Regions from separate parts of the Homo sapiens genome. Here region 1 is linked to region 2. The links come from fine-mapping of genetic effects on gene expression. A gene starts in region 2. The other region holds a variant in brackets. All regions are shown on one strand. Distances are from middle to middle. Region 1 overlaps EML4-AS1 (EML4 antisense RNA 1). Region 2 holds the start of EML4-AS1 (EML4 antisense RNA 1).

Region 1 (11,814 bases), 25 kb after region 2:
CAACTCTTTTGCAATCAACGTCTGTCTTTGGTCTTTGGTTTTTTTTTGTCGGGGGGAGGGTGTGGGGGACAGTCTTACTCTGTTGCCGAGGTTGTGGTGCTATCTTGGCTCTCTGCAACCTCTGCCTCCCAGGTTCAAGTGATTCTCCTGCCTCAGCCTCCCGAGTAGCTGGGACTACAGGCAAGTGCCACTGCGTCTGGCTAATTTTTGTATTTTTTGTAGAGACGGTTTCACCATGTTGTCCAGACTGGTCTTGAACTCCTGACCTCAGGTGATCCGCCTGCCTCTGCCTCCCAAAGTGCTGGGATTACAGGTGTGAGCCACCGTGCCTGGCCTGTCTTTGGTCTTAATAATCTGCTGCTACATCGTTTCCTGTATTCAATATCCAGCTTTATGTGCTGTGATCAAGGGTAAGACTAGCCTATTGTTCCATCCCAAACCAGTCTACACCTTGCTCAACTATCTCTCTGTGAGAGGAGTTGGATTAAACATATGTTGTAAAGGCAGTTTGTCCCTTTGGATGATGTGAACAGTAAAAGTAGAAAGGAGTCCCTGAACAGGACCCATTCCCTGTTCCTATCAGAGCCTCTCCCCATGATTCCCTCTTGATACAGTTTTGGATATTTGTCCCCACCCAAATCTTATATTAAATTGTAATCCCCAATGCTGGAGGTAGTACCTGGTGGGAGGTGTTTGGATCATGAGGGTGGATCCCTCATAGCCTGATGCTGTCTTCCTGATAGTGAGTTCTTGTGAGATCTGGTTATGTAAAAGTGTGTGGCACCACCCTCCCACTCTCTCTCTTTCTCTCTTCCTCCTGCTTTTGCCATGTGAAGTGCCTGCTCTCGCTTTGTCTTCTGCCATGATTGAAAGCTCCCTGAGACTTTACCAGAAGCCCAGCAGATGCCAGCATGATGTTTCCTTTAAAGCCTGCAGAACCATGAGCTAATTAAACCTGTTTTCTTTATAAGTTACCCAGTCTCAGGTATTTCTTTATAGCAATGCAAGAATGGCCTGATACAACTCCCTGTCTCCTACCTTATTTCCTAAAATGCAAAGGAGTAGAACCACAGCAAAGATTCATAGAGTATAGCAAATTGTCCACAATTTCCAAGTCTACTTTCAACATGTCACAGCTGGAACAGGATAGGAAGCTCCTTGAGCCAAAAGTTAAGCTTTGGGATGAGTGAAAGACTGGCTTTCGGTACTTCTTTTCATAAGGACACAACCCAGAGATAGAAGTATATTTATAAAAGGAAAAATGCAGGTTTTAATATGTTAGAATGAGCAATAATATTTGAAATTAAAATGTAAACTCTTATCATTAATGTCAGAACTTTCCAGAATATTAAATTACATGTGTCTGTGAATGTATATTTTTCCATTAACAAAGCAAAAGAAAAAAAAATTAAACCCACCGAGTTTCATGAAGTTTTCCACTTGGAAAGATGTTCTGATTTGTATGAAGGGTAGGCCCATAGTCTGCCCTAATTTTATTTGTTGCTCCTCTGGTTTTTTTTTTTTAATGTGCTTCCCTGTGGCTAATGCCAAGTGTGCATTTGCCAGATCATCTGGACATACTCCAAAAGAAATAGCTCACCCATATCTTTAAAGAAAAAAGCATTTCATACATGTTTGAAAGCTAAAGTAGCTTGAGGGTAGGGGTGGGGGATAGAGGACAGAGAAGACAGAGTTTCATATTTTACTAGCAAATTTTGACCAGACTTTCTGAACCTTAGCATTTTAGGAATTTGAGTTGGCCAAGTCAGTTGTGAAAGACTCCCACATAGCAGGAATTGAAAAAAAAGGACAGATTATTTACATGAGTTTTCTACTACCTAATTGGATAGATACTGTTCCCTAACCAGGCACAACAAAAACATGTTTGTTTATTTTAAGGCTGTCTGCTGCCCTGCATTGTGAGTTTGCTCAGTGGGCCAGCGTGGCACAGAAGCACAGTTGAGAGACCAGACCCGGGGCCTCTGGAGGAACGTGCTGGTATCATCGCTGAAGAGCTTTCTCAATGCTGGCTGGCTGTTGTCAGGAGCAGTCCTTAGACAGGCTCGCTTCTGGTAGTTCAAAGAATCAGGTTGGTTTAGCAATCATGTTATCCCTTACATTACTTGTATATTCCTAAGTGTATTCCAAAGACGGTGAATTCCCATCCACAGTATAGGTGCAAACTGTGATGAGATGAGGCTTGGGGTTCTAATGAAGTGCAGGCCACAGATTTTAGAACACAGAAGAGAGGTTCTGAGTGTGGTGGTGAAGAGCATGGACTCAGGAGCCAGACTGCCTGGGTTGGAATCCCAGTCCCCAGCTTCCTGGCCATGCTATCCTGGGCAGGTTACTTAACTACCCAGTGCCTCAATTTCCCCATCTGTTATATAGGGATTAAATAGCCCCTACTTTAATAGAGTTAATATAAGTATTAAATGAGTAAGATGATTAGGAAATTGACATGTAGTAAGTGACATATATGTTTGTTAAATAAAGTGGAATATACTGATGACTGGTATTCACTCTAGAATTCTACATTCTCACATGAGAAAGAATACAAATGCTAGAAACAACCCAAATTGGGGCAAATCTAAATAAACTGCAATATGGTTGTACTATGAAACACTATGTAGCCACTTTTTTTTTTTTTTTTTAAATCTTGAGACAGGGTCTTACTGGGTCACTCAGGCTGGAGTGCGTGGCACCATCTTGGCTCACTGCAACTTCCACCTCCCAGGTTTAAGTGATTCTCCAGCCTCAGCCTCCCAAGTAGCTGGGATTACAGTGTGTGCCACCATGCCTGGCTAATTTGTTTGTTTGTTTGTTTGTTTATTTATTTTTTTTGAGAGACAAGGTTTCACCATGTTGCCTAGGCTGGTCTTGAACTCCTGAGCTCAAAGCAGTCCACCCACCTCAGCCTCCCAAAGTTCTGGGATTACAGGCATGAGCCACCCTGCTTGTCCTATAGCCGCTTTTAAATGAGGCATTTTTATATATGCTGTTGTGGGATAACCTGTAAGATATATTGTTAAAGAGACAGAGCAAGTCCCAGTACAGCACATGTAGGAGTAATTATAAGAACTAACATTTACTGAATATTTTTTGTGTCGGGCACTGTTTTAAGAGCTCTACGTATATTAACTCATTTAATCTCCATAATAAGTCAGGTACTTGTCATTTTTCATTGTGGAAATTAATGAGAAAACTGAGTCTCAGAGGTTAGGGTACTTGTCTCAGGTCACACAGTGGGTAGATAGATGAGCTGGGACTTGAATTCAGACAAAGTTGCGCCAGTGTCCATTTATTAATCACTATGCTAAGCTACTCTCCCAGTAGAATAATCTCAGTTGTGTACAAATAAAACTACATACGTAAAAAGAAAAATGCATGTTAAAAACAACAAGGTCTGAAGGCATAGACACTAACCATTAATCTATAAAGGGAAGAATGGGAATCAGTGGCGTCAGGTGGTGGCAGAAGCTTAAGGTGAGGGGGACTTTCATTTATTATTATATATATCTGAATATTGTTTGAATTATTGAGTATTATACAAATATGAATTTGTATATTGCTTTTAGAATTAAAAATAATTGTAAAATAAATGAATAACAAACACTTATGAAAAATTTACTTGATGTCAGGCAGTGTTCCTTAGTGTTTTACAAATATTAAATAACCTAATCTTCTTAAAAGTCTCCATTTTGCAGATGAGGAAACTAAGGTAGTCATTCCACAGTTGATAAGAGACAAAGGTGGGATTTGAACCCATATAGTCTGACTGCAGATTCTGTGTTCTTAATCATTATTACACACACACAGACACACACACACACACACACACACACACACACACACACACACGCATGTGGGAGCTGAGATCTGAGCCAATGGTCGTCACACATTTTCAAATTCTAGACCAGACTACTAACCACCCTGTGCCATGGGGAACACCCTTTAGTCTGGTGCTTAGAGGTATAAATTCTCAAATTGCACAAACATGGACTTGAATTCCATCTCTGCTAGTTACTAGCTGTGTGATCTTGGGCTAGTTATTTGACAGTTTTGATCTCTGTATCCTCAACTATAAAAAATTGAGATAATAGGCCAGGCGCAGTGGCTCACGCCTGTAATCCCAGCACTTTGGGAGGCTGAGGCGAGTGGATCACCAGGTCAGGGGATCGAGACCATCCTGGCTAACACGGTGAAACCCCGTCTCTACTAAAAATACAAAAAATTAGCTGGGCGTGGTGGCGGGCGCCTGTAGTCCCAGCTACTCGGGAGGCTGAGGCAGGAGAATGGCATGAACCCAGGAGGTGGAGCTTGCAGTGAGCCGAGATTGCACCACTGCACTCTAGCCTGGGGGCCAGAGCAAGACTCCGTCTCAAAAAAAAAAAAAAAAAAGAAAAAAAAAACACCTGAGATAATAATAGTCACTCTCATAACGCTGTTATGAGGATTTAAAAATATTAGTATACATAAAGTGCTTAGCACAGAACCTGGCATACAGTAAGAAATAAATCAATGTTAATTATTGCCATTATAATTATTAGTATATTATCTAGGCACCCCCTTTTCAACTTATATTAAGGTTGAGGGTAATCTTTTTCTCCCATCTTTATTTGGGACACTAAGACACATCTTTGGTCTAGCAATATCTGTAAGGAATCTACTTTTTATTTTTTATTTATTTATTTATTTTTAGTAGAGACAGGGTTTCACCATTTAGGCCAGGCTGGTCTTGAACTCCTGACCTTGTGATCTACCAGCCTCAGCCTCCCAAAGTGCTGGGATTACAGGCGTAAGCCACTGTGCCCGGTCAGGAATCTACTTTTTGATGTGATTGCAAAAAGTTTACCAAGATATACGTTTAAAGATATTCACTGAGGTGTTATTTGTTCTAGCAATGAACTGGAAACCACCTAAACATCCATCATTAGGAAACTGATTGGTTGGGTGTGGTGGCTCACTCCTGTAGTCTCAGCACTTTGGGAGGATGAGACAGGCAGATCACTTGAGCCCAGCAGTTCAAGACCAGCCTGGGCAAAAAAAATTAGCTGAGTAGGGTGACATGTGCCTGTAGTCCCAGCTACTTGGGAGGCTGAGGTGGGAGGATCATTTGAGCCTGGGAAGTCGAGGCTGCAGTGAGCCAAGACTGTGCCACTGCACTCCAGCCTGGGCGACAAAGCAAGACCTTGTCTCGAAAAAAAAAAAAAAAGGAAACTGATTAAATACATTTTGATACATACAAATAAGGAATAACATGTGAGGACTCTGAAAAGGCCCAATACATAGCAGCCTTCTTCCCTGTTCAGAATCTGAACAAACTGAGAAAACGACAGATGAAGGCAGAAATCTCTCTGATGAAGGCTAATTTGCATGCTGCACCATGTGTTATCTCATACTGAGAGACAAATAGGCTTCCTACTATGGAAACCCCGAATTGGATAGACATTCTCCAGTTCTGCCCACTTCTGGGGGAGTGGTAGGCAACTCCATCCTAAGAAGAAAAGGGCAGAATTGAACCTGAAAGGTTCAATTTATATAATCAGATAAATCACTCTGCACTCAAGGGGTGGTGGAAGTAAAGGGACAGAAAGGGGCCAGGAATGACGTTAGCTGAGTGCCTTTCACTTGGAAGGCACATTCTCTCCTAACAAAGATTGTGCAGACATTAAAAGTAGAGAGTATGGCTGGGCACTGTGGCTCACACCTATAGTCCCAGCACTTTGGGAAGCTGAGGTGGGTGGATCACGAGGTCAGGAGTTCAAGACCAGCCTGGCCAAGATGGTGAAACCCCGTCTCTACTAAAAATACAAAAATTAGCTGGGCGTGGTGACAGGCACCTGTAATCCCAGCTACTCAGGAGGCTGAGGCAGAGAACTGTTTGAACCCGAGAGATAGAGGTCGCAGAGCCAAGATCGCGCCACTGCGCTCTAGCCTGGGCGACAGAGACTGTCTCAAAAAAAAAAAAAAAAAAAAGAGAGAGTATATCTGCAGCTCGTGTTTGAAAGATCTCTGAGATGGTGTTTAAGGTGAAAATAATGAGATGCAGAATGATTAATACAGTAAGATCTCCCTCATGGAAAATTTTGTTAGAGGACATACATAACTATGTCATAATAAGGATGCACACAAAAAAAATAGTAACACTGGTTATATTTTAGGGGAAAAACTCAGGGCAGAAGAGGTATTTTTCCTTTTATACCTTTTTTTACTGTTTTAATTTTCTTCCCCTGTGTATGTATTACTTTTATTTTTAAAAATACTGTTAGGGGTTATCTGGACTGTGGGATTAATGACCATTATTACTTTCTTTTTCACAGTGCTCTGCAAAAGTAAGTTATAATAAATGTTATCTTAAAAAATAAAAACAAGGCAACTGTTTTTTTTTTAAGTGCCCTCTCTAGCCTTGGGAGTCCTAATGAGCTATAATCACAGAGACGCCAGACTAGTCAAAATTGGAAGAAAGAGCTATAATCACAGGAAAAGAACTCTCTCCACAATTTGAAGTATCCCAGAAAAAGCAGCAGCAATGAGGACAGACTTCAAGACAAGCAGAGAGGAGCAGCCATGGCGGGGCCTGCAGTGGCTACAGGGGGCCTCTATAGCGTGAAATGACATCAGAAAAGGACCTGAGTGGCCCAAGAAAGGGAGGACGGAAAGTCAAGGAGGAAAGTAAGCAGGAGTTGAATTTAGGAGTAAATGCTACGGTGATTATGACTCACAGCCTCATGGTCCTCAAGGCTGGAGTGGC[G/C]TTGGAGAAACCAGGTCATAGTTGTATAACCAAGGTACTCTGCAGGATGGACTATGGAGCTGCCTCCTGCAGCCACAGGTGATCAAAATGAGGTCTGTGTGACGGAGCCTGCAGCGAGGCAAGATGGCTGCCTCAAACAAGTCCATATTTCATCTCTCCTCCTAACCTCCTGCCTGCCAAAGCTCTGGCAGGGAACTCATTACAACAAAGCATGCATGCACCCTAATTACCTGTCATACTTCTCTGTTGCTGGACCAGACCCTATAAGAGAATTCCAAAGAATTTATTTTTATGGGAACAAAATGCAGTAATTGATGTTGCAATCCTGCCCAAATCACTGAACAGATCCTTTAACATCCAAATTCCCTAAAACAGCTTTGACTTACTACACACTTCACATGCCAGCTAGTGTTTGAAGTGCGTGTAGCCGCCCCCATGAAGCCCTTTCTTACTGTAAGTGCTCAAGAACAAAGATATTTCTTAAACTTCCTTTGATTCTCATAAAATAAAAATAGCCATTACATAATAAAGCACAAAGCTCCATGGGTTAAGAAGTCCCTGATGTTTTTCCTGCCTTCGGTCATTTTCTTTGTTTAAAGCATTTAGAAACAGTGAATGTTCATGAAGAAAAAAAAAAATCTCCAGCGGGAAAATGAGTGTGAGAGTTAGTCAGCAGCTAGACTCACTCATACGTCCATGAGGTTGTAACTTAATCTGAAAATATAGTCTTTCCTGGAAGAGACTTGAGCAGCAATTTATCATTTTATAATTTGTGGTTTAAATTTGAGCCATAAACCAAGCAGCTGTATTGGTTTGAGGCACTTTTGAATCTTCTTAAAACCCCAGGAGGCAAGAGGACAGCTTTAAACTTGAGGCTCCAAACTCTTGGGGTTTAACTGAGAGAACACGAAGGACAACGTTTCTGTGTGCCCTCTCTTTTCTTAGGAAATGTATGGAATGCATGCCTTTGTTTGTTTTAGACTTGGGAAGAAAAAGCAGACTTTGATAGCTGGAGCCACAAGCCGGCCCCTCGTATCTTATGACATCGGGTTTTCGTACATTACAGGGTCCCCTGGGAAATGAGAAGCTGGAAGCCGAGAGAGGGGGAAATGGGCGGAGAAAGGGGAAGCAAGGGGAAGGGAGGAGTGCCGGAGATAACTCTGCTGACTTCACAATTTTCCACCGGGGCCTGCCCTGCCTACCTTTGTTGACATCAAAGCTCATTGAGAAGCCTCTGTGTGCTGGCTCAGTCAGCCCTGCCTGCTGCCAGTGGGAAAAGGAATTGGCAACTAGCCCTACAACAAAACTGAGAACATAATTCTTGAAATTAACTTTTCCTTAAAAATTTTTTTTTCCATCTTGGTATGGCAGCTCTGGGTCCCGTCCGCCACCACTTGCTGGGGTTCAAGCATCCACCAGGGAGGAAAGCAGCTTTTACACAGATATCTCCAGAAACTCGGGCAGCCTCCCAAGGTGTCTCACTGGTTCTGCAGCAGTGTTGGCTTTCTGTGGGCTGATGGGTGTGGCTTTTGCAATCATGTTGGGGCGCCTGGATTTGGGAAGCCTGGGCTCCTTTATGCAGAGCAATGCAGAGCATCAGATTTTGGCTGGCAGCTGAGCTCTCAAGTCGGCTGCCGTTTCGTCTCTCCTCCCTGCTCCCCTGCTGGGATTCGTTTGTTTCCATTCCCATCTCTCTTTTCTTTGGAGTCCTCTGGCCCCTCTCCAGGGAGAAAGCAGAGGAAATAAGATGACCATCCTGTCTGCTGTCACTTATGACCTTCAAATCTGCTTATCACTTGAATCCCAGGACAAAAAGAGTCACAGCACCCTTACTGAGCAAAAGCAACTTGCCATAGATTCTACATGTTAAAACCCAGTTGGACAGCACAGTTAAAATATATGCCTGTGTGGCTGGGCGTGGTGGCTCATGCCTGTAATCCCAGCACTTTGGGAGGCCAAGGCGAGCAGATCACAAGGTCAAGAGATTGAGACCATCCTGGCCAACATGGTAAAACACCGTCTCTACTAAAAATACAAAAATTAGCTGGGCGTGGTGGCGTGCTCCTGTAGTCCCAATTACTTGGGAGGCTGAGGCAGGAGAATTGCTTGAACCGGGGAGGTGGAGGTTGCAGTGAGCTGAGATCCCACCACTGCACTCCAGCCTGGTGACACAGTGAGACTCCATCTCAAAATAAATAAATAAGTACATAAAAAATTAAAAGAAAATATATGCCTGTGTGTTCTATCTCATAGCTCTCTGCTCCAACAGCCTCAGGCAGTATGAGGCATGCTACCCTTTACCATCTTCTCCTGTTCAATATGAATCTAAAGATAAGCCTGGGCTAGAAGTAGGTTCCCTGGCAATCCAGCTCCAGCAACAAAGAAAGCTGAGCATAAAAAGCAGTTTACAGTTTCTGCAACTGGTTATAGATTGTATTTATTTGTTTATTTAATTTAATTATTATTATTATTTTTTGAGATGGAGTCTCGCTCTGTTGCCCAGGCTGCAGTGCAGTGGCACAGTCTCGGCTCACTGCAACCTCTGCCTCTTGGGTTCAAGTGATTCTCATGTCTCAGCCTCCCAAGTAGCTGGGACTACAGAAACACACCAGCATGCCTGTTTTAGTAGAGACGTGGTTCCACCATGTTGGCAGGCTGGTCTTGAACTCCTGACCTCATGTGATCTGCCTGCCTCGGCCTCCCAAAGTGCTGGGATTAGAGGTGTGAGCCATTGTGCCAGGTCAGATTGTATTTACAAGTCACAGGATGTCAGCATCCTCCCATCTTTTTTTTTTTTTTGAGACAGGATCTCACTTTGTCACCTAGGCTGGAGTGCAGTGGTGTGATCTCGGCTCATGGCAGCCTCGACCTCCTGGGCTCAAGTGATCTGCCCACGTTGGCTTCCCAAAATGGTAGGATTACAGGCATGAGCCACTGCACTCGACCTATTTTCCCTTTTTTAAATTTACCACTGCTAGGCCGGGTGCGGTGGCTCATGCCTATACTCTTGTCCTTAAGGGAAGTAATAGGAATTGTCACATTTTAGATAAGAAATTGGTGAGCACAGTAATTCAAACCCTATATTTTGAAACCAGGGATTTTAAAATTGGGAAATGAGAACTTAAACAACGTAATTAAGAGGCCTGCCTGAGGTAAGGGTTCATTAGTTAATCCCATGAACAAGAATTAGCACCTGAGTCAGTTTGGAACTATGCATCCTCAAGGACCCAAATCCAGATGAGACAGGTGAGAGTGTTACTCAAAACTAAGCTTACTACAAGAGATGCAATTAGCCAGGTGTGGTGGTGGGTGCCTACAGTCCCACCTACTTGGGAGGCTGAGGCAGGAGAATGGCTTGAACCCGGGAGGTGGAGATTGCAGTGAGCTGAGATTGCACCACTGCACTCCAGCCTGGGAGACAGAGTGAGACTCTGTCTGAAAAACAAAAAAAAAAAAAAAAGAAAAAGAAAAAAAGAAAAAAAAAGAGATGCATTGAAGTTATTTTCTGCTTAAGAGAGCTGAAACCCTGCCCTTGGTTATCTAGACTCACATTGACTCCCCCAGACTGCCAATGCATTTGAAACTGATTCAAAATGCTTTTTGGAGATCCATCTCAATTCAGCTTGCAGGCATTCTTGGGGCCCCCTTCCAAGAAGAAATGGACCGGCATCCTGTCTGGGCTAGACCCAAGTTAGGCTCTGTCTGTCTGGGAGAATGTCATTTCTGCTTTTGAATGTCTGATGGCTAAAGCTCCAGGCTCTTGCTCCTCAATCAACACCACCACATATTCGCAGTGTTGGCTCGACTTGCAGACCTTAATCTTTAGCTCCCACATAGATGAGACAATTCTTTTTTTAAAGACATTAAGGATATATTAAGCTTCTCTTCCCTGAATTCTGTTTCTCAAACTTCCATCATCATCCCCTACTACTACTTACTGAGTACCTAGTATGACCTAGATACTGGGGCAAACAAGGGAGACTTGGTCCATGCCTTCATAGGCCTTTAAGTACCATAGGTAATAATTGTATCATTGTATAACCAAGTTAGAGATAAAAAAATAAAATGACAGACAGCTCACAGCCTTCTGTCTCATTAATATTGCATTCACCCCACCTAACAAAGTAGGAGATCTAATAGTCAAGTTCTTCAGTGTTCTCTTGGCTCACTTCCCAGCTGTGGTCAAATTCTCTGCATGCTCTTTCCTCCTTTTCTGGATTACTTGAGGAATTGCCAGGAGAGCAGAGGCATGAAGAATGCAGGCAGCGAAAGAGAAAAAGCATCTGCAAATGACTGACCGAAGCCAGTTGTAGTTAGACAGAATCAGGGTTCTCAGTTGCAAGCAACAGAAACCAACTCTGATTGATTTAAACAGAAAAATAATTTGTTGAAATGCTATTGGGCAACTCATAGAAAAACTGGGAAGGCTAGAGAAATAGGCTCAAAAAACACAGGAACCAGAAATTCAGGATCACAGCCAAGGCTATAGGTACAATCACAGCACAGGGCCTAAGATGATGATACCACTGTTGCCACTGCCCAGTGCTGGACCACAACTTACATTGTCACCCTCTTCAGCTGCAGACACTGGATACCACCATAAGCACCACTGCACTGGGAGCTTGTATATTTTTGCTGCCCTGCAGTTTCCTGTGAAAAGGGATCCGTATTTGTTGGTGCCAGTAATTTCTGATTCCTTCTGGAGCAGCTGCACCTGTTGGCCAAGTCTCGGTTATGTGTCCATATCCTACCTTTAAAAGAGACTAGAAAGGAGAGTATCTGGGCCAGGCGTGGTGGCTCATGCCTGTAATCCCAGCACTTTGGGAAGCCAAGGTGGGTGATCACCTACGGTCAGGAGTTCGAGACCAGCCTGACCAATATGGTGAAACCTTATCTCTACTAAAAATATAAAAATCAGTCGGATGTGATGGTGGGCACCTGTAGCCCTAGCTACTCAGGAGGCTGAGACAGGAGAATTGCTTGAACCCGGGAGGTGGAGGTTGCAGTGAGCTGAGATCACCCCACTGCACTCCAGCCTAGGTGACCAAGCAAGACTCCGT
Region 2 (11,814 bases):
GGTGGCTCACACCTGTAAGGGAGGCCAAGGTGGGTGGATCACACAAGGTCAGGAGTTCAAGACCAGCCTGGCCAAGATGGTGAAACCCCGTCTCTACTAAAAATACAAAAATTAGCCAGACATGCTGGCGGGCACCTGTAATCCCAGCTACTAGGGAGGCTGAGGCAGATAACTGCCTAAACCCGGGAGGCGGAGGCTGCAGTGAGCCGAGATCGCGCCATTGCACTCCAGCCTGGGCAACAGAGCAAGACTCTGTCTCAAAAAACAAACAAACAAAAAAAAACCACTTTCTAGACCTTTTTCACCTATAAAAGTATAATAATTTATCTCCCAAGGTTAGTATGCAAATTAAATGAGATAAAAGCTCTTTGTAAACTGTAAATAAGGAATGCTTTAAAATAATATTTAAAAATCATATACAGCATGCAAAATTAAGGTATTATAAAAGCCTAAGACAGCTAAAGGACAAGAGATCATATACCGACATACAAATATACTACAGGGTCAGGCACAGTGGCTCACACCTGTAATCCCAGAACTTTGGGAGGCCAAGGTGCGTGGCCATCACCCGAGGTCAGGGGTTTGAGACCAGCCTGGCCAACATAGTGAAAACCTGTCTCTACTAAAAATACAAAAATTAGCCAGGTGTGGTGGTACACAACTGTAATCCCAGCTACTCAGGAGGCTGAGGCAGGAGAATCGCTTGAACCCAGGAGGCAGAGGTTGCAGTGAGCTGAGATCGTGCCATTGTACTCCAGCCTGGGAGACAGAGCAAGACTCCGTCAGACACACACACACAAAGAAATATACTATAGATTTGGGAATCTTCCACACTGAGGTAATACTAGATGAAGTAGATTCTTTCCCTAAACTTTTTACAAGTATTAGAATCTATTTTAAAAATCAAAATATTTTTCTAAAATTTCTTATGAATATTGAAGTTTTACATGTTACAGAAATGGACTCCCACATACAAAATACAGTATTTTGCTACATGTTATTCCAACTTACACATAAGACAGAAAAAGACTCCCTAGAATTTAAACTGCTAAATTATTTCATTGTTTTAAAAAGCCAAGCTCTGCAGAGATAAATCTAGCAATCAACAAATGTTCTCTCAGAAGTTACTTGCTTGAAACATAGCACAGCATTCTAAATGGTGCTTCCTCCCTTCATCCCCATTTCTGGTACTTAGGCTTAATAATAAACATCTCTACATACAGTACATACTTTATTTATTTATTTATTTTTTAGAGGCAGAGGTTTGCTCTGTGGCCCAGTGGAGTGCAGTGGTACAATCATAGCTCACTGCAACCTTCAACTCCTGTGCTCAAGTGATCCTCCTGCCTCAGCCTCCCAAGTAGCTGGGGTTACAGGCACATGCCACTATGCCTATTTTTGTTTTTTTTGCAGAGACAGGGTCTTGCTATGTTGCCCAGGCTGGTCTCAAACTACTGGGCTCAATCGATCCTTCCACCTCAGCCTCCCAAAGTGCTGGGACTACAGGCGTGAGCCACTGCACCTAGTCATGGTACTTATTTAAAAACCAGGCAGTAAGCTCCTAAAGGGCAAAAAGCATGTCTTTTACTTGTCTTTCCCATAAGAACCACCAAGCATAGTGCTAGCCCATGTTCGATGTTAATCCATACATATGTTGAAAAACACTCTAGCTAACTCATGTTGAAGATGCTCTACTAACCATTTAAGAGTTACTACTCATGTCTGGTTACACAACTTGAGTCTATCTTGAACTCTTCAAGAGGCAACCAATAAAAAAAGTTTAAAAAAAAAACCTCTCCAAATATTACATGAAAAACATTTTCATGTAAATAAGGAATGCTTTAGATTAATATGTGAAAATCATATACAGCATTGTTCCTTTAAGAAAGCAAGACTATTATCTGTGATGAGAAATCACAGTTCTAACAATGTGATGTTAAAAAGACTAATTTCTGAATAGTCCATAAGTTGAAGCATACTGCTATACTTGTTCACATTTACAACCTGTACCCAGAATGTTGTTTCTTATAGATCCTAATCCAACAATTTCATTCACTATGATTTTTCTTAGGGGGAAGAAGATTTTAAGTTTTGTTGTTTAACTTTTGAGGCAGAAAAATTTAAAGCTGACTGGTTAGGTATAAGGTTTCTTTCAAGTGAAAACAGACTAATCTCTAGGTTAATTCCAAGATAAAAGTCTTAAAATTAAACCTCTATTATGAAAGAGATTCTAAAAAGATTAAGCATGAAATGCACCCAATCCCTGCCTTATAAAAAATCGGTAAAAGCTGTATGAATAGCTTCCCACTTTTGCACATAGACCTGAGATTTAATATACATACAGTATATACATTTTGCACATGGGTATCTATATGTAGTGATTTAGAGGCAACACATCAAGGTAATTGAGTACTTTTCTCTCCTAAGTTTAAAAAAAAAAAGGTTTCTAAAGTGCTGCCTTAAGTTACCATAATTTGTGGATTAAAAGATATATTAATAATACCTAAGGGAAATTCCAGAGTACAAGCACCTGCCAGCCAAGTTGCCTGAAATTCATCAGCTGCGGAGATTAAAAGAATTCTTCACTTGTTTTTTATGTAAAACAAAGATAACATAATCAGTACCATGTAACTTCAATGTGGCATTTATAAAATGGCCAATCACTTATCATTCCTATGATTTAAAAAACCACTACCTAGTCTTAATTGCCATTAGACATCTTATAAAATGCACATAACACAGTGGATTTCTTATCTAAACATGCAACAATCAAGGGTACAGTTTGAATTTTAAGTTTTCACTTCACAAAATGAGTCACCATAGGATTCTCTGAAATAATCTCTTCTCTAAAATTATTCTGTTTATAAAGTACTCAATTTTTCTGCTTATAAAAATGTAGTTTTTTCACCATTTTTCAAGAATCTATCTAATATGTAAAAGGAAATACACACATACTTCCTTGAGAATAAATGCTTTCAATAGTTGTAACCCCAGAAGAACTTCACGTTTTGACTTCTTGTTTAAAAAAAAAAAAAGTTTTTAAACACCTACTAGAGTAGAAGTGCTTGCCTTTATATTCATGGCTCTCCTGATGGTAAAATAAAGATCAATGTAACTCTAAGCTCTAGGCTAATTAACTGCAGAGAACAGAAACAAGCAATTTGGCAAGAGCTGAGCAAAGCTCCGCTTAAAGACTACCAGTAAAATATACCAGCACTACTCCTCCCCCACCCCTTTAAGGTTTCAATTAAGATGGGGCCTAGTTTTACTCTTGCAAGGGGGACAGAAAGAGAAAGCACAGAGCTCCCACTGAGAAGTATCTTCATCAAGAACAGCTCCAGAAATACTGCCAGGAACCATTTCCTTCCCTCTCTGCAGATGCAGGTTCCTCTGATAGGCATATCTCCTCTGCTCCTGATTAACACCATATCTAAAGGAAAGTCTCATCACATACCACCCAAAGCATGGCATCAAATGAATTTTTTAAATCCAACATTAGGGTCAACAATGACGCTCTTTATGAAAAGTGTGAGCCCCAACTGCAATTCATCTTCATCTCTCGGTCTTTTGTATCACTTGCCTCATAAACTGGTTAAGAAAGAAGAAAGCTATTACAAAGCATAATCAATGTTTGAAAATAAACATTAAGTGCCCCAACTGGTGAGAAAGACTCCTCCTAAACACTTACAGAAGATGAAGCTTTAACAAGCCCTCCAGAAATCTTTAGAGCCAACACGAAAGAAGTTAAAGTGATCTCACCACTCCTACAGGATGAGGACCCAATACAGTATAAAGATAGCACAGCTCTCCACAACATCCCCTAAGAAGACACTCAATTTTTACTTTAGTATAAGATCAGCCCTTCAGCGGACATATAGGACAAGTTTTTCGGTCCAACACTTACTGTGAATAAACCAACGCATGGAGCTAAAAAAGAACCAGGGAAAAATGGATGTCTCTCTAAAAAGAGCCCAACCTAAGTAAGGAATTACAAGACATCAAAGGTTAGATAATGGACAACAGGTGCCTTTGAGGAGGAAAGAGTAACACAACACTCAGTTGCCTCCTATTTTAGGATTTCCACTCTGAAAGCAATATAACGACAATTTTTTCTGCCCAAGAAAAAGGGAAGGCCAAAATTATAGGTTTTACTATTTAATATCTATAATAGGCCCATTGCTCTTTGACTTACTTTTTTACTTTAGATTTTAAAAATCCATCTCATCTCGATATTATCTGGATATAGTACGGCCTATGGCCAGACTGCTCACTGATCAGTGAACATTAACCAAGTAGAGACTTATTATCAAGAAATGTAAAAGAAAGGCGTCTGAATACAAGCTACCTGCACATAAAAAACTCAAAATACAGTTCCAGCAGTAGGTATCACACAACTGCGTTATCAGCCAAAGCTGAAACTGTTTCTCTCACCATTCTAACAGTTGAACTTAATCTTTTACTAGATTTCAATGGCCTCGAAGAATAGTAATTCCAGATTCAGCTTCTAGGGCAGCGAATACTAGCCTGGAGTTTTGATTTTCCTAGCCAGAAGATTACCTTCATCTGGTGAAAGGAACACTGAAAAGGCACTTCAGCCTATTTAATAACCTCTTCCCTTTCTCCATTCCACAAAGACAACATCTTCCAAAAATGGAGAATCCTTTCCTTCCCTGATAGAGGCCCCCTTTCCTATTGATTCATTGGGCAGAATCACTTCTCCCCAGCATGTATGCAGAACCAGAAAACACTTCTGCTTTCACTCTTAAAGAGGGTCCCCCAACACAGATGCACCTCTTCCTTTCCTGCATTAAGCAAATGATGCTCCGATGCTTCTAGGTCTCTCCACCACTGCAAAATGCTCAGAGAAGTGGAGGGATTGAAAAGGAAGTTGCCTACTACTCTGAAGGATACTGGAAAGTCGCCTTCAAATCTAAAGTGAAGACTTGGGGGCGGGGGATGCCCCCTTCCTGAAGAGGGAATGAGGGTCCCTCCCCTAAAAAGGAGCCTCTGTTCGGGTGAAGGCGATCCCCACCCTGAAAGAGAGGCGTGTATGTGGAAAGGTGGTGGAAGGTTGTACCCTGAAGAGGAGCCTGGATTTGAAGAAATGTCCCAACTCTGAAGGGGGGTAAGTGGAGGGAGCCGTGAGTGTACGGGGAGGGGTGTGCCAGCTATCGGGGGGCCTGAGAAGGAAGGGGTTCCCACTTTGGGGGAACGAGGGCCCCGCACTGAAAGGGGCTCCGGGAGGAAAGGAGGGTCTGACACAGAGGAGAGTTGGACATGGGGGAGGGGCCCTCAGTCCACCGGAGTCCGCGGAGGGGCGGCAGCCTCGAAGGGAACATGTGCAGTGGAGCCGCTGCCACCCCGAGGGGCAGGCGGGAGGGCAGGGCCTGGGCTGTGTGCGGAAGGAAAAAAGTTCCTACCCTTCGCAGAAGACGCAGGACTCCCCAGCCGTACTCACCGAGACTGCCGGCGAAACCGTCCATCTTGCGGGGAAAGCGCCGGGCTCCGGGCTTAGAGGGGCGGGCACTTCATTCAGCGGACCGACAGAGTGGCCGACGCTGAGCCTGACCCGCTCGTTCTCTAGGTCGCCCGGCTCGGCTACCGGCTCCCGCCTCCGTCGTCCGTCCGTTCGCCCTGGGGTAGTAAGCCGCGGCCGCCCGAACCACTTCCCCGTCACGTTGAGAGCCGCGCCGCTCAGCCGCCTGCCCGGCCTCCCTCCCAGGCAGCAGCCGCGAGCGCCGCGCCGCGCCGCGCCCCGCCCCGCCCCCGCGCCCGCGCGCAGCAGTAGCCCCGCCCCGCGCACGCCGTCACACTTCCGACTCCGCCTCCCACGTGACGCCACGGAGGCGGGGTCTTGCCAGCCCCGCCCTCTCACCTTGCCTCGGCCTCGGCGTTTGTCCGCCTCGCGCCAGGCTGGTGGTTGCGCCTGCGCGGTAGGCCTGCTGAAGGCTGGGGACCACGGTTTGGAAGCTGGTTCCAAACAGGTGGGGATAAGGCATAGACTCTGGCCTGCGATACTCTGATGCATGAAGGATCCTCTCCCTATGTGGCCCCTGGGAAGCCCGCAGAGCCAAGACTGGACCCCCGTGACGGGAGATGACCACCACGTGGGTCCTACAAGGACACTAAAGAAGCAACCAAGAGGGAGAGGTTCTCCCTCTCCCCCAATAGGGTGGGGGACAAATAGGGGCGAAGCTTCTTGACTAGCTCGATACCACCACTGCCACAGCCGCAGGGCCCGGGACAGATCAGAAGCAAGGAATTTTAGTGCTGGACATGACCCAAAAGTTCATCTTGTCTAACCCTTCTTATGAAGAAAAACACAGAGCCTTAGAGAGGACAACCTGCCCAAGGTCATCGAACCTAGTAGAAGCAAAAACTCAGCCTTCCTTACTCTCCCTAGCGTTCTGTCGTCTAGGGGTGCAAAACGACCATATATGGCAGGCTATAGGATGGCCTGCTAGGGAACCATAATAAGGGTTATTTCAAATGAAGTAACACTGAGTTCTAGGCCCAACTCCGTATGACTCAAGAGTGTCAAATCACCTAATTTATTTAGGCGTCACTTTATTCATTTGCAAATTGGTTGTCTGGACATGTAACCAAAACATGTAAATATACATAGCGTTCATATTCTTCCTCCCTTCCCCAACACGATTTCCCATACTTCTAAAGACTTTCTCATGGTTTGTCAAGTCCCTCCTGGGGCTCAGTTGTGCAGATTAGAGTAAGAGAGAGAAGAGCTGTAAGGTACTGAAGAACTGAATTGATCTATACATAATAAATTGATAAATACATAATAAAAAGCTGAGTTAGGGGAAAACAGAGTCCTACTACACAGAGTTGCAGGAGAGAGGGACAAACAAGAAGGGAGACAAGAAATATGTAATGATGAGAGAGACTTAGAGGAATTAAATGATTGAAAGGATTGTTAAACCTTCTTGGGGTATACGTCTCCCTTTGTTGCCTCTTTAAAAATCTTCCCTAAAAATGTAAATTACTTTGCATTTCTTATTTGGATATAAGACCTGTTTCTGAATACCATACTATATGGAGACTGGCCATAACGCAGCCAAGATAAATTCAGGTTACAGACTAAACGGTGTCTAAAATTTCCTTCTCTTCAAACTTAAATGATTTACCCAATGTTCCTTCTGCTATGGGCATTTTCATATGCATAAGTTTCTATTAAGCCTAAGTAAATGTTTGAGAAGTTCTCAATTCTGACAGCTGTTCCTTTGTGTCTTCAGGCCACACTCTCTGCCTTAGGTCGATTAAAAGAATAAGAACTTGGCATATTGGTATACATATGTTTTATGGTCCAGACCTGGAAGTGTGTACCTCCCTTTTGTCCACATTCCACTGGCCAGAACTTGGTCACATGACTGCAAGGGAGGCTAGGAATGTAGTCTGTGTATCCAGAAGGAAAAGAGACATATTTTGGTAACAGCTCTCTGGTTTCTGCCACACTCCCCTTCGTGGCATTCATCAGAGTTAAAATTTTTCATTTGCTTGAATGATTTATTCAATAAGCATCTCATTCATTATACTGTATACTACAAGGAAAGCTGTTAAAATGTAGGAGAGTTAGTACATCCCAGCAGTTAAGAGTGCAGACTCTGGAATCATGCTGCCCAGATTCACATCCCAACTCATCATGTACTAGCTATGAAACACTGGACAAATTACCTAACCTCTCTGTGCCTCCATTTTATTGACTGCAAAATGGAGATGATAACACTTCTACTTCTTAGAGTTTTTGAGAGGATGCTATGAGGTAATATATGTAAAGCACTTAAAACAGGGCACAATATGTTATAAGTGCTCAGTAGGTATTAGCTGCTCTTATTTTGTACCTGTTTTTGCTCTCTATTATATACTTAGTGCATATTACAGAACAGCTTTTTGATAAATATTTATTGAATAATGAACAAACATAGAAGAATTCTGAAAACTAGTCAATCTGAATACATTGTTTCAACAACCAGTGCCTGAGTGTTTTAAAGCAGCCAGAATTTTTGTTTTATATTTATCAAAGTACATCTTGCAATCTAAGCCTCTAATACTACTATGATAAAATAAAATTTAACATACATCTTTCAAAAGTGAAACCATAGCTGAACATTATCAAACACACACACAAATACTAAGGTTCTAAACAGTTACGAATTACTGGAGGGTTATTTTGGTTATTCACCTTAACAAAGGATTTATCTTTAGATTATTTTCAATGTGGAGTTCCATTGCCCCTTTGAGCTCCTTAAGTATAACTTAATTCAGGCAAATGCAAAATATGTGCCGTTTTTCAGGATCCCAGTTATTGGAAAAGGCTAAATATAGCTGTATCAAATAATGAAAACTTAGAACATTCCCTTTATGGTTTTGGTTTTTGAAACAGGGTCTCACTCTGTTGCCCAGGCTGGAGTGCAGTGGCACGATCTCAGCTCACGGCAACCTCCGCTTCCCCGGGTTCAAGCAATTAGCATGCCTCAGCCTCCCAAGTAGCTGGGATTACAGTTGTGCACCACCATGCCCAGCTAATTTTTGTATTTTTAGTAGAGACAGGGTTTGGCCATGTTGCCCAGGCTGGTCTCGAACTCCTCACCTCAAGTGATTCGCCTAGCCTTGGCCTCCTGAAGTGCTGGGATTACAGGCTTCAGCCACCATGCCTGGCCAGAACATTCTCTTTATACATCGAATCTTGACTCTGCATACTTACCTTCCCCTCTATGTCAAGGTTAGTATGTTGTGGGAGGAGTTTCAGAATACTTGTGAAGATACATTGTCAAAGTCTTGACCTAACGTTTGAAGAAAAATAAGATTCCTATTCAATTTCTTTGTTTTACTCTCACTAGCTAGATGATCTTGAAAAGTAACTATAAACTGTTTTTGTCTGCTTGCTTTTCTCTCCCGCAGACATTTTAAAATAAATGCCAAGGAAAATTAAGGGTTTTTTTTAAGTATGCTGTGTCTTCAGTTCCTTTTATTTCATTATTTGAATGTTATTTAAAAAATGAAACCCTATAGTCATGGAACTATATAGATTGTATAAACCTGTAGTCCATGTAAGCACAAATTTGATAGAAAAAAATCAGAGTTAATACCTGAGTGGGGGAAAAAAGGGATTCTTCATTTTTATAATATGTTTAATGTAAGCAGTGTGTAAAAGAATTCCAAAATCTATAAGAAGCTAAATGGCAATGTTATTCTAGCTTCTAACCATAAAGAATGCCTAGGGAGAACTTCAAAATTATTGCAAGAGAAATAAAAGGAGTTTGAGAGGAGATACCCCAAAGTGTCAAAAGTAGCTGCCTCTGAGAAATGAAATTAAGTGGAAGAAGGAAAGGGTAGAGGAGAGATATGGGGGATTTCACTTTTATTTTATTTTAATCATAGAAGTATTCATTTTTTGAAAACATTAAAATGCAAAAACAAAAAATATATTTCACTGCATATTTAGACACTCATAAACTGTGTCTGTAGAGACTGGTTTAAAATATCATACTTATTTAATAACTGTTTTACCAATCTTGGCATGATGGTTATCTCTCTCGTAAGACTTTCCAGACTTGCTGACTTCAGGAAAGAATCAAGCAATTAGTAGTGCTGTAAATTCTTGGTGAGAACTTATGAGACTGAAATCTATCCTGTGGGGATCACAAGCCATACCTCACTTGGAGGACCTGCTGCATAGATGCATGAGTGAGTGAACGAATGCCTATTGAGGTTAATTTTGGCATTTCTCATGGTGCCATCCATGACCTACAGAAAGAAGACAACTAGCCTTGCCTGCAGAGCTAAGTTTTCCCAATGCTAATTCAGAATTTATGCCATGAAATGAGATTTGAACTTGTTGAGATTGTGGAACAAACTTTAAAGTTTCTTTTTATGTGTTATAGCTTTACTACATTTACTGGATGTTGCGCAAGCCTTAGAGATAATAGCTAATAATTTTCATGTGTCCATCATAAATGTAAAATTTTTCTCCATGAAGAGTTCATAACAATCCCTTACAAAATTGATATTCTGCAGGGAAATACTTTTAAATAGAAATATTAGAGTGGAAAGCAGCCAATCAAGGAAATTCAATTCTCAAAATTAATAACACAGGAAGTTCTCTACTTGCAAATAAAATATTTCCAAAAGGTCATTTGTAAGTCAGCAGTTTGAAATTAGTAATAATGCCATAATTGGTGGTTAGATTGCCACTTAGCCCCAAAAACATGTAGCATGCTGATCCTAACCTGCCTGCGTTAAACCACACTGATGACAGCCTTACTTAAGGTTTTGAACCAGACAGGTCTGAAATTGAATATTGCCTATTATAAGCATCTGTGGGTTGATGTTGCAACCTAAATACAACATATAATACCGTTTCAACTTTCAAAGTTCTGACTTATGAAGGTCCTTAAGTGGTAGGTTTCATTATCCCCATTTTTCAGACAGGGAAAATGAGCCTCAAGAGTATAAAACTATAAAATGGGAAAATCAAGTTTTGAACCCATATCCATCTACATCTGAAAATCAAACTCTTCGCTGCACCAGTTTGCCTTTTGGGCTCAATGGGATTCTGTTGTGGAGATCCTTGAACACCAGACTGAGACGCCTATCAACAATGCAGTTTTAGCAGCAAAGTGATATGATCAAAGCATTGCTTTAGGAAGATTAAACCGGGTGGACACATTGGAAGAGGCACTGGAAGTGGGGAATCCAATTAGGAGACTTGCAGTGAAGCAGTAGCTGCAGAAAGCGCCAAGAAAAAAAAAATCTTGTGAAGGAAAACATGAATTAACAACAAACAAAACCCTCGCAGAGCTGGGTGGACTGATTGCCTCAGAAGCTAAGGAAGAGGAGGGAGTAAAACAGGTTATCCAGGTTCAGCTCCCAGTGATGGAGAGAATAATGGCAGCATTATATTAAAATGGGAACTTAAAGAAATGATGTGACTGGAGAAAAGAAAATACAGTGATGAATTAACCTTTGTGGGAAGCTGAAGGGAATCAGAGGTCATCTTTGACAGCTGGGGCCCAGGCACATGACCTAGGCCAAGTGAATGCCTCAACCCAGGTCTTTTAATGGCAGGGATGAGTTGGGGGGCAGTGATACAAAAACTAGCAGTCAGAGACCATGCTTGAAGATAGTTGAGAAATTGAAGAGCAACAGTGATGGTGTGCAGAGGTAGGAAGTAGGGCAGCCCACTCCAGGGCAGCGTCCTCACTAGAGTCCTAAAGAGTAAACTTGCCCATGCTCTCTGTGCCCTACACTGCCTGGGTTTCTGCCCATTTTCTGTGCCTGGCCCTCTGATCTTCCCATCGACTGAAGGAGCTACCTGATATCCTCCCAGCGAATTTGTTTTCTGCTTGAGTCAGCCAGAGTGGGTTTCTGTTGTTTGCAATAGAGAACTCTGAGTGGTACAAGTGCTGCGTTCAGTTTTAAACAGATTGTGCTTGGCGTCATAACCAGATGTCCAGATGGAAGCCTCCAGCACACAGTTTGAAATGTGGACTGTGGTTTAGGAGCGGGTTGGGTCTGGGAATATACACGCAGGAGACTTCTCAATAGAGCCGATGGTTTAAGCTATGAGAAATCTTAGAGGAAAAAGATTTAAGGGAAAAAATGGAAATGAGCAGAATGTAGAACTTGAGGGACCTCCAATATTTAGGAGGCAAGAGAAGGTGTCAGAGAAGAAACAATAACAGCAATAGAAGGCAAATCCTGCTAGTGCCCTATCACAGAACCAAAAGGAGCCAAAAGGTTGTTTTTTTTTTTTTTTTTTTTAATGATGGAAGTTGGAAGCTGTTAAATGCTACAGAG

The links. PIP is the estimated chance that this variant, and not a neighbour inherited with it, causes the effect.
Region 1: its variant is fine-mapped to the expression of EML4-AS1 in whole blood (TOPMed, PIP above 0.99).

What each region holds. Positions count from the first base shown.
Region 1 is chr2:42,137,926-42,149,739 of GRCh38, reverse strand. It overlaps EML4-AS1 (EML4 antisense RNA 1), which reads left to right. Exons shown (of 4, transcript NR_110584.1): 3 at 1,900-2,089; 4 at 6,396-7,305. Among named protein-coding and RNA genes, the nearest start is that of EML4, 26 kb to the left of the region's middle. RefSeq lists a silencer at 8,237-8,531 and an enhancer at 8,103-8,900. The variant G/C (reference allele first, on the strand shown) is at 6,755.
Region 2 is chr2:42,163,281-42,175,094 of GRCh38, reverse strand. It overlaps EML4-AS1 (EML4 antisense RNA 1), which reads left to right and starts at 4,864. Exons shown (of 4, transcript NR_110584.1): 1 at 4,864-5,125. It overlaps EML4 (EMAP like 4), which reads right to left and starts at 5,742. Exons shown (of 23, transcript NM_019063.5): 1 at 5,459-5,742. The coding sequence starts at 5,483. RefSeq lists silencers at 5,731-5,790, 5,891-5,940 and enhancers at 5,356-6,008, 6,021-6,160.